Linked DNA regions of Homo sapiens: region 1 is linked to region 2. The links come from fine-mapping of genetic effects on gene expression. Tissue or cell type: transverse colon. Region 2 holds a variant in brackets; the other region holds the start of a gene. All regions are shown on one strand. Distances are between the middles of the regions.

The links. PIP is the estimated chance that this variant, and not a neighbour inherited with it, causes the effect.
Region 1: ANKDD1A starts here. The variant in region 2 is fine-mapped to the expression of ANKDD1A in transverse colon (GTEx, PIP above 0.99).

What each region holds. Positions count from the first base shown.
Region 1 is chr15:64,909,309-64,914,462 of GRCh38, forward strand. It overlaps ANKDD1A (ankyrin repeat and death domain containing 1A), which reads left to right and starts at 2,594. Exons shown (of 15, transcript NM_182703.6): 1 at 2,594-2,656. The coding sequence starts at 2,623. RefSeq lists silencers at 1,822-2,116, 2,190-2,239, 2,440-2,619 and an enhancer at 2,806-3,349.
Region 2 is chr15:64,871,853-64,877,160 of GRCh38, forward strand. No RefSeq gene overlaps it. Among named protein-coding and RNA genes, the nearest start is that of PLEKHO2, 33 kb to the left of the region's middle. RefSeq lists enhancers at 1,144-1,233, 1,254-1,303. The variant C/T (reference allele first, on the strand shown) is at 2,258.

The DNA.
Region 1 (5,154 bases), 37 kb after region 2:
AGATTGCAGTGAGCCATTGCACTCCAGCCTGGGCAACAAGAGCAAAACTCCATCTCAAAAAAAAAAAAAAGAAGTGTGCAACCTAGATTCCTCACATGCACAGTTCACAATAGGGTTCACCCTTCTATGAGAATCTAATGCCACCACTGATCTTTCAGGATGCGGAGCTCAGGTGGTAATGCTCGCTCTCCTGCTGCTCACCTCCTGCTGTGTGGCCCAGTTCCTAACAGGCCATAGACCAGTACTAGTCTGAAGCCTGGGGGTTGGAGACCCCTGGGATTAGGGATCTGTGATAGTAATTTGCCTTACACAGTTGCGGAAGGACCAGAAGGGGAGTTGGGGATCAGAGGAGTCCTTAGTCAGTCATCTGAGAAACCAAGTATGTCCAGCTGCTAAAATGGAACCACAAGGGAAAGCTCCTGGGGAGGTCTATGGGTGGTACTAATGCCCTGGGTCTGCAGCCAAGTCCGCGATGGCCTGGGGCCACTGTTGGTCAGCAGGCTCAGCAGCTGGGAAGAAAAGCTGGATGTGGAGTGAAGGAGAGTGACAGCAGGCTGGAAGCCAGTGGTGCCCTCTTCATCCATCACCACAGCTGACTATGACAACCTTCAGAGACTTAACTTTGAAACATGTAAATACTTTACATAATTGTAAAGCAAAATTAACATTTAAAAATATCAAAAAACAAAAGCAAAACAAAATAAATAAACCATGCATGTTGAGTTGGTGGCATAACCACATAAAGAACTATTCCAAGTGACTAAAACAGTAACGTGACACTATGCCCCTAGTGGGATGTACATGTGACAAAAGCTTTACAAAAAACATTTAAACTGTTTTCAGGAATAATATCTTTGGCTAGGCGTGGTGGCCAAGCACTTTGGGAGACCTAGGTGGGTAGATCACCTGAGGTCAGGAGTTCGAGGCCAGCCTGGCCAACATGGTGAAACCCCCGTCTCTACTAAAAATACAAAAATCAGCCGCGTGTGGTGGCACACACCTGTAGTCCCAGCTACTTGGGAGGTTTAGGCATGAGAATCGCTTGAACCTGGGAGGCAGAGGTTGCAGTGAGCTGAGATTACGCTACTGCACTCCAGCTTGGGCAACACAGTGAGACTCTGTCTTAAAAAAAAAACAAAAACAAAAAGGGGGGGGTGCGGCGCAGTGGCTCACACCTGTAATCCCAACACTTTGGGAGGCCAAGGTAGGTGGATCACCTGAGGTCAGGAGTTCAACACCAGCCTGACCAACATAGTGAAACCCCATCTCTACTAAAAATACAAAATTATCCAGGTGTGGGGGCGAGTGCCTGTAATCCTAGCTACATGGGAGGCTGAGGCAGGAGAACTGCTTGAACCCAGGAGGCAGAGGTTGCAGTGAGCCGAGATCATACCACTGTACTCCAGCCTGGGCGAAAGAGTGAGACTCTGTCTCAGAAAAAAAAAAATCATATCTTTGATTATTATGTTGGAATTGTTATTTTGAGACCATTTTGAGGGGTTGGCTCAGGGCTCATTAATTGTTAGCTGTTATCATTATGTTATTTTTCAAAGGCCATTCCAAATACCTCCTTCTTCAGGAAGCCTTCTTGAACTATATTCTAAGGACTAATGACTGAAAGATGCTCTTCCTCCTTTGATCCCCAAAGTAGTAGTAACTACACCTATCATGGCTTTGCTGGCTTCTTGCCTTGGGATAGAGATGCCTGAGACCCCATTATCCCTAAATTCAAAGAAGCTGTAAATGCCTTTAAGGCAAAAAGGACATGGACATCCCCCAAGGGTCTGAAGTGCAACCCATTCTGGTGTATTTAATGTGTATCTTTTTGTTTCTATGTGTCTTTGCAAGTCTGTGTTGTTTGATGTAAATGCATTTGTAATATTTTTATTGATATTGTTTCCTAGGTCTTATTTGGTTTGGTTATTTACTTTTTCTGCCTAGCACTAGGTGTTTAAATCCATATTGCCACGAATACAGCGGGTCCCTTGCTTTGAGTGCTGCACAGTTTATCCATCTGCTCTTACAAGAAAGGGCGCTTAGATTGTCTCCAACTCCCAGCAACCACAGCAACACAGCAACCAACATCCTCCTACATGTCCCTTTATGGGCCTGATAAATCTTTCTGAACACTGATAAATCCGACCATCTCTTCATATGCTTGCAGACCTGCTGAGGTTGTGGTCCCTTAAACGCCAGCTCACATCTTTGGGGTTTGACTTTCTGCGCCTGAGGCGGCGGGCCCAAGGCTCAGCCCTCCTCCCCGAGTCCCGAGAGGCGCGAGGAGGATGAGCCTGCCAGATGCCTTGTGCGCATCTATCTCCAGGGCCGGGGAGGCTGGGCGAACTCCCGGGGAGGAGACTGGGTCAGGGACACCTGCGGAACTCGGCGTGGCCCCGACCCGCCGGCCTCGGGCGCGGAGGGGTGGGCAGGTTAAGAGAGCAGGAGGAGGGACCTGCGTCCTGGTCCGGGACTGGGGTGGCCGGGGCAGCTGCGCTCCTAGCAGGCGGGGCGTGGAGTCTGGAGGAGCGACCGCCCCGTCCTCTCGGCTCCCCGGGCCCCGCCCCGGCGGACGCGCGCCTCGCGCCCGGGCACCAGCGCGCGCAGGGGCTGCGGAGCGGCAGGATGCAGGAGGAGCTGGCGTGGGAGACCGACGGCCGTGAGTCTGCCTGGAGGAGGGAGGGGGGCGGGCCGAGGCCGAGAGGACCCCCGCATCCGTTTGGGGAGTGCCAGGGGTGAGGTTGGCGCCCTCCGAACGGCCACCTCCGTGTGGGGCGTCTGTGTGGCTCCGAGCGGAATGGTTACCGGTCCGCGCACTGGGCCGAGGGGACCTTGCCAGTGCGTCTGGGACTCGGGGACCACACCCGCCAGGTGAGCGGGGAGCAGCGGCTGAGAGGTTAGCTACAAATAATAAAGGTAATAGCGATCCTTGACTGCGTGCTGTACTTTGTGTGCCAGGCCTTGACCCAGGAGAGGCACGTCATTTGATCTTCGCTGCGGCCATATGGGTAGGACATTATGTTATCTTCATTTCGCAGATGAGAAACTGAGGCACAGGGTGTTCAAATGAGTTGTTCAAGGTCACACAGCCATTGAGTGGTAGAAGTGCTGAAGGGCCCAGCTCACCCGGAATGCTGGGGCTGGATAGCGAGTGGAGACCGCATCAGATGGGGCACGCACTCAGAGGAGAGGAGCCTGACTGGCCACAGGTGGAATGAGGGCACCTCCGAACCTCCCTCAAGGAGTGCGCCCAGTGCCAGGGCCTCTAGGCCGGGCAGCAGCGTCTGTGTGGGCATCAGCTGGCCTGGGGCAGCTTTGGCTGCACCGTCTGGGAGAGGGGAGAGAAAGATTGTGTCGGTGTCTGCACTGTGAGTCCTTGATCCTGCAGCCCTGGCTGAATCCTGACAGCTGAATCCCGGGGCTTTCCCTCAAAAGCGCATAGTGCAGCTCACTGGATTCCTTTGAGACCTATAGTGTCCAAAATGCTGGCACACTGCATCTACTCAGCTGAGGGATGTGTTGGGGGTGGGAATGCTCAATCAAGATTAGGTACATGGTTCTGCCTGGGGCGGAGGATCACTTGAGTGGGCCTGCGAAGAATGTGTACCAATGGAGCATTGGGGTGTGTGGCAGAGAATTCTGGACAAAGACCCAGCATGGGCAAAGGCTCAGGTAGCTCAGTGGGTATTGGATGTGGCCAGAAAGAGGGTGCCGGATGGGAGGTGGATGGAAGAGATGAGACTGGACTTGATTTCATTCTAACTTAACCTTCTCTGGCCTGACCCTATGCAGTGTCTGCTGGCTTCCCATTGGAACTCCTGGCTGTTTGCCAATACAAACCAGGCCAATCCCCCTAAGCTGCACATAAGATAGAGGGTGCCAGACAGGAAGGGACCTATACAGATCTCTTTCTTCACCCTCCCCCAGTTTTACAATGGAAGAAACAGACCTACAAGGGGGATGTGACTAGCCCAGGATCCTGCTGCTGGAAAGTGGCAGGGAAGGTACTAGAACCCAGGCCTCTGTAAGCTCACATCTGAAGTGGCAGCTCTCTTTGGCTACCAGAATTTGACCCTTTGCCTTGGAGGAATAATAGTGATGATGATGGTGGTGGTGGTGGCGGTGTGGTCATTATGTGCCAGACACTGTGCCAGGGGGTTTTCATATCTCATTTCTAATCATGATATTAACCTTGTAGGGAAGCTCGCACTCCTGTTTTGCAGATGAGGAAACTGCCTAACACAGCTAGGAAGTGGTTAAGCCAGAGTTGAACCCAGGACTGTGTGATTGCCCCCCAGGGTAGCAACTCTGAGATCCACAGGTTGTATCCATGAGGCCCCAGAAAGCTCAAGATCCTCTTTCTCATCTGGAGAAGACTGTGTGGAATTTATCTAGAAAAACAAACTGCATGGCAGGCCTGTCTCTCACCTCAGTGCATCTTAGCCTTCCCTACCAAGACACTCGTCACCTGTCCCTGGATACACAAAGGGGCTGGGTTCAGACATTCATACTGGACCAAACATGCAGGCTATGGGGTCACTTGCCCTGCAGTGACTATGGAAAGGGCCAGCAAATATTTGTCTCTGTGCTAGTATGTGTGAGCACTTTGGGAGAGGGGACAGGCATCTATTCGTCTGGGGATTGTTGGTGTCACTCATACAAGCAGAGATTTTTTTGTTTCTGTTTTCTTTTTTTTTTTTTGAGATGGAGTCTCGCTCTGTCACTAGGCTGGAGTGCACTGGCATGATCTCGGCTCACTGCAACCTCCAGCTCCCAGGTTGAAGCAATTCTCCTGCCTCAGCCTTCCGAGTAGCTGGGACTACAGGTGTGTGCCACCATGCCCAATTAATTTTTGTATCTTTAGTAGAGACGGGGTTTCACCATGTTGGCGAGGATGGTCTTGATCTCCTGACCTCGTGATCCATCCACCTCGGCCTCCCAAAGAGCTGGGATTACAGGTGTGAGCCACTGCACCCAGCCTGTTTTTGTTTTCTTTTTAGAGACAGGGTCTCACTCTGTTGCCCAGGCTGGAGTGCAGAGGTGCAATTATAGCTCATTGGCAGCCTCAAACTCCTGGGCTCAAGCAAGCCTCTTGCCTTAGCTTCTTGAGTAGCCGGGACTACAGGCATGTGCCACCACACCTGGCTAATTTTTAAA
Region 2 (5,308 bases):
AAGACGGAGTCTCGGTCTGTCATCCAGGCTGGAGTGCAGTGGTGTGATCTCAGCTCATGGCAACCTCCGCCTCCTGGGTTCAAGCAATTCTCCTGCCTCAGCCTCCTGAGAGCTGGGACTACAGGCGTGCGCTACCACGCCTGGCTAATTTTTGTATTTTTAGTAGAGATGGAGTTTCACCATGTTGGCCAGGCTGGTCTCGAACTTCTGACCATGAGTGATCTGCCCGCCTTGGCCTACCAAAGTGCTTGGGATTACATGCGTGAGCCACCGTGTCCAGCCCAGTAGAGGGTTTCACAAATCACAAGGTGGCTATCATCAGACAGGACCCAGGACAGGGGGAGGGGCAACCAGATTGCCCCTTCCTCTACCCCTGCCTAGGCCCTGGCGGCATCCTGTCTCGGGAGTCACTGTGTTTTGTTCCCTTCTCCCTGTCTTGTCTTCCTGCCTCCCCACCCCTACCCTCATGTCCCAGACAAAAGGGGTGTCAGAAAAGACAAACTCACTCCACAGAGGTTTCTGTGACCAAGGAGGCTCTGTGATGGAACATGGATGGTGGAGAGGTGATGATGGAAATTCCTCCCTGTTGACATAATTTAACAAAATTCTTAGAGGAAACAGCAGGATGTAAGTAGAGAAAACATGACTTCAGGTTTGGAGGCAGACACACCTGGATTCAAACCCCAGGGGTAGCCAGGTGCAGTGGCTCACACCTATAATCCCAGCACTTTGGGAGGCTGAGGTGGGTGGATCACCTGAGGTCAGGAGTTCGAGACCAGCCTGGCCAACACGGGAAAACTCCGTCTCTACTAAAAATACAAAATTAGCCAGGAGTGGTGGCAGGCGCCTGTAGTCTCAGCTACTCAGGAGGCAACAGAGTGAGACTATGTCTCAAAAAAAAAAAAAAAAAAAAGAAAAGAAAATGCTTAATAAACTCCAGCAGCCTGGCCTCACAGAGCACCTACTGTTTGCCAGGCCTGTTAACCTCTCACAGTCACCACAGTGGCCTCACAAGGAAGATGTAATTTCACTCCATTTTACAGGTTAAGAAACTGAGGCTTAAGCAACTTAGGTAGGGGACCAAAGTTAGTGTCAGGACCTGGGATTTGACCCTCCTGGGGTTTTGGCCTGGGGCCACAACTGACTGCTTTCTGCTATTTGTCTGGAGGGTCTGTGATTTCAGATGGAGGCTCACCCCAGAGTCCTTGGGGCACCCCCACCTTTCCTGGCACTGGGAGGATACCCCAAGGCCTGGGCAGGTTCTCCACCAGCTGGCTATGGCCCAAAGGAGAGGCTTCGGAGGACTTTCCCTTATAAGGACAACAGCTCAGCTGTGATGAAACTTCTCAGCCTCCTAGCTGGGGAGGCGGGAGAGGGGAAATGACGGTGGCTCCAAGGGTTACAGCTGAGTTTGAGCCTCCTCAGGAACTTGCCCACAAGCCTCCACTCTCTGTTGTCATAATTTTATGGGAGGAGGGGCCAGGCAGGGCTTGGGACCAGAGGGGGTGGCCCACAGAAGGGAAGATGCCTACATTGAGGCCTAGGGAGGAGACAGGACCCTTCAACATCCAGCAGGCAGCTTGCAGATCTGGACTCCAAGCCGTAGGCCTATCTGGCTTCAAACTCACACTCACCCTGGGGAGGATTATCAGAGGGTCCAGAAGGCTATTAGGCCAGCCATCCCTTTCTCTCTTTTGTTTTTTGTTTTTTTTTGAGATGGAGTCTCGCTCTGTCACCCAGGCTGGAGTGCAGTGGCACAATCTCGGCTCACTGCAAGCTCCGCCTCCCGAGTTCATGCCATTCTTCTGCCTCAGCCTCCCGAGTAGCTGGGACTACGGGCGCCCGCCCCAGGATGGTCTAGATCTCCTGACCTCGTGATCTGCCTGCCTTGGTCTCCCAAAGTGCTGGGATTACAGGTGTGAGCCACCACGCCTGGCCTCCCTTTTTATTTATTTATTTATTTATTTGAGACCCGGTCTTGCTCTGTGGCCCAGGCTGGAGCCAGGCTGGAGTGCAGTGGCACGATCTTGGCTCACTGCAACCTCCTCCTCCTCCTGGGTTCAAGCAATTCTCCTGCCTCAGCCTCCCGAGTAGCTGGGACTACAGGCACCCACCACCACGACCAGCTAATTTTGTATTTTTAGTAGAGACGGGGTTTCACCGTGTTGGCCACGTTGGTTTCGAATTCCGGACCTCAGGTGATCCACCTGCCTCGGCCTCCCAGAGTGCTGGGATTATAGGCGTCAGCCACCGTGCC[C/T]GGCCCCTTTCTCCCTTTGGACCTCTAAAGTGGAGTCTTAAAGAGCAGGGTGTGTGGGGCTGGTCTGCTTTTGGCCTTCCTCCCCATGAAGCCTGTGTCCCTAGGGGACTGCCCTCCCCAACACAATTCGTCAGCCCACCGTCCAGTCTGAGAAACTATTCCATCCATGGAATCACAGGATATTGGGGCTGATAAGGATCTTTGAGACGTCTAGTCTCACCTGCTGGTTTTAGAGAGGAGGAAATAACAGCTCAGAGCGGCCAGGGGAGGTGGTGGCTCATATGTGTAATTCCAGCACTTTGGGAGGCTGAGGTGGGCAGATGTCTTGAGGCCAATCTTCAAGGCTTGAGACCAGCCTGAGCAACATGGCAAAATCCTGTCTCTACAAAAAAAAATTAGCAGGGCATGGTGATGCAGGCCGAAGTGGGAGGATCGCTTAAACCTGGGAGGCGGAGGTTGCAGTCAGCTGAGATCGTGCCACTGCCATCTCAAAAAAAAAAAACAAAAGCTCAGAGGGGACCTGGTATTGCCCATTTGTTTTGTTAAAATGTGTGTGTGTGTGTGTGTGTGTGTGTGTGTGTGTGTGTGTGTGTGTGGCTTTCTCTTGGTTTCCCATTAAAACTTCCTTTTTAAGAAATCCCAAGTTAACCGAATAACAGGATAAAGAGCTTTTTCTACACCCAGATCTGGTTAGTTCTGGGGGTCAGTGTTTCCCTGAAGACCATGTCTGGAGTTGGCAGCAGGGGAGGCAAGATCCCAAGGGAGAGATGGGTGTGGCAGATGGAGAATCTGTCTCTGACACTGCTGTGCATAAGCTGTGGCACCTGCAGTGGCTGCTCAGCCTCTTGGAATTGTAGTCTCATCTCTTAGGGGGAGACAATCACTCCTGGCAAGGCGATTTTGAGGATGAAATAAGATAATTTAGATAAAGCATTTGCTCAGGGCCCACCACATAGCAAGGACTTAGTAAATGGATAATCATATGGTGTATTGGGCACCTACTCCATGCCAACATTACATTAGGAGCCGTGGATTCCAAGTACAATAAAATGGGATCTTTCCTCAGGTTGCTCACTGCCAGTCAGGGAGACAGGCACTCCAACTCATAAATGCAATGGGACAAGCTCTGTGTTAGACCCACAGGCAAATTCTGTGGCAGCAGAGAGCAGACATCAATGGGCTGTGTTTGCTGAGGGAATCAGTCGAAACCTGAGGAGGAGGTTTCTTTGCCTGGGCCTCAAAGGAGGAGTTAGAGTTTACAGAACAGAGGTGGCAGGGAAGGACATTGGAGACAGAGGGAACAGAGTCACAGTGGGTTACCGGGTTACTGGAGCCATGGTCAGCTCTTTGTGTAGTCTCCTATTGGCTATAAGTAAGAGGTGGGGGACTGGGAGGTGAGGTGGGAGAGGGGAGCGGGGATGCTGGTCACCCAGAAAGGTTGGACTTTGCCCTAGAGACCAAGGGAGTCTGGGGAGGGGGTCGTTTCAGGAGGTGGGGGGCGGCAGGTGGGGGTGTGGGGTGGAGACTGGAGGCAGGGAGGGTAGTTAGGAGGTAGTGACAGTGAACCAGGGGAGGAGTGGTGAGGGCCTGAACTGCAACAGTGGCATTAGGGGTAGAGTGGAGGAGAACTGGGGACTTTGGGGCATTGTGAATGTGGGAGAGATGGAATGGGAGAGAGGGAATTCAGAGATGACTCACAGAGTTCTAAGGAAGTGGGAGTACCTTTTTGAGATAGGAAGCCCCTGGGGAGGGCGGGATGGGGAGAGGATGGTGGCCATGTGGAGGGGTCTGGTGAACTACTAGAATTGAGCTGAGGCAAAAAATTGACAGTCAACGGGCATCCAGACAGTGGATAATTAAAGCCACAAGCACTGCTGAGTTATATCTTGTATGTTACTTAAGATTAGATTTGACTGTGACTGACAAGAGGCCATGGTGTCAGAAGAGTTCATCAGAGGCTAAACCTCAGCTCCGGGGGAGTTAGGCCAAGACAGCAGTGACACAAATTCATTTATCTTGCATGAATTAAGTCTGGTGGTAGAGGCCATCTCTATCATGGCACTCCATGGTCATCTGGGACCCAGCCTCCTTCCCTCTTACTGCTCTGCCATCTTACCCCTTGACTTTGATTTCTGGACCCATGAGGTGATACAGCTGCAGCCCCCGCATAAGTGTTCTCACCCTTGGGAAGCAAGAAGGGGTATAGGATGCACACTTTCCCTTTAGAGACACTTTCTGGAAGTTGTACTGCTGCCTCATTGCGAGGGTGGTCTTGCAGCTAGCTGCCTGGTGTTTTTTTTCCTGTTGACTGTGTGCCAGCTGAAAATCAAAAGTCTTATTACTAAAAAAGAAGGGAGGGAATGGAGCTAGAGCAGTGTTTTTCAAATGGGGATGATGTTGCCTTCAGAGGACATTTGTCAATGTCTGGAGATATTTTTGTCACAAATGGGGACATTGCTACTGGCATTTAGTGGGTGGAGGCCAGAGATGCTGTTGAACACCCTACAATGCACAAGACAGCCTCCCCGACAACATCTTGGGGGCTCCTCATCCAAAATATCAGTAGTGCTGAGGTTGAGAAACCCTGACCTAGGTGGACAACGTATAGTCTCTTTGCCACAACCAGGACGGGGTGTAGAGTGAGTGGACTAGTCACCGTAGATGTGCAAAGACACCTGTCCCTGGCAGACCATAATGTCAGGAGAGTTCAGCAGCAGCCCAGACCTAGGCTCTGGGGTTTTATCAGATTTGTCCCAGCTTAGTGGGGCTCTTGTCCTCAAAGAGGCTTTGTTTTGTTTGTGTCTTTTTGTTTTATTCATTTCTGTTTTAAAAACTATTTTTATTTTTTGTAGGAATAGGGTCTCACTATTTTGCTCAGGCTGGGCCCTTGTTTTATTCATTTCTTGATGTTGAATTCTGAAGCAGAGACCCAGGTTGGAGCCTCAAGGAAGAGGCTTAAGATAGAGGCGGGCTGAGCTCCGTGGCTCATGCCTGTAATCCCAGCACTTCAGGAGGCCGAGGCAGGAGGAGCACCTGAGGCCAGGAGTTTGA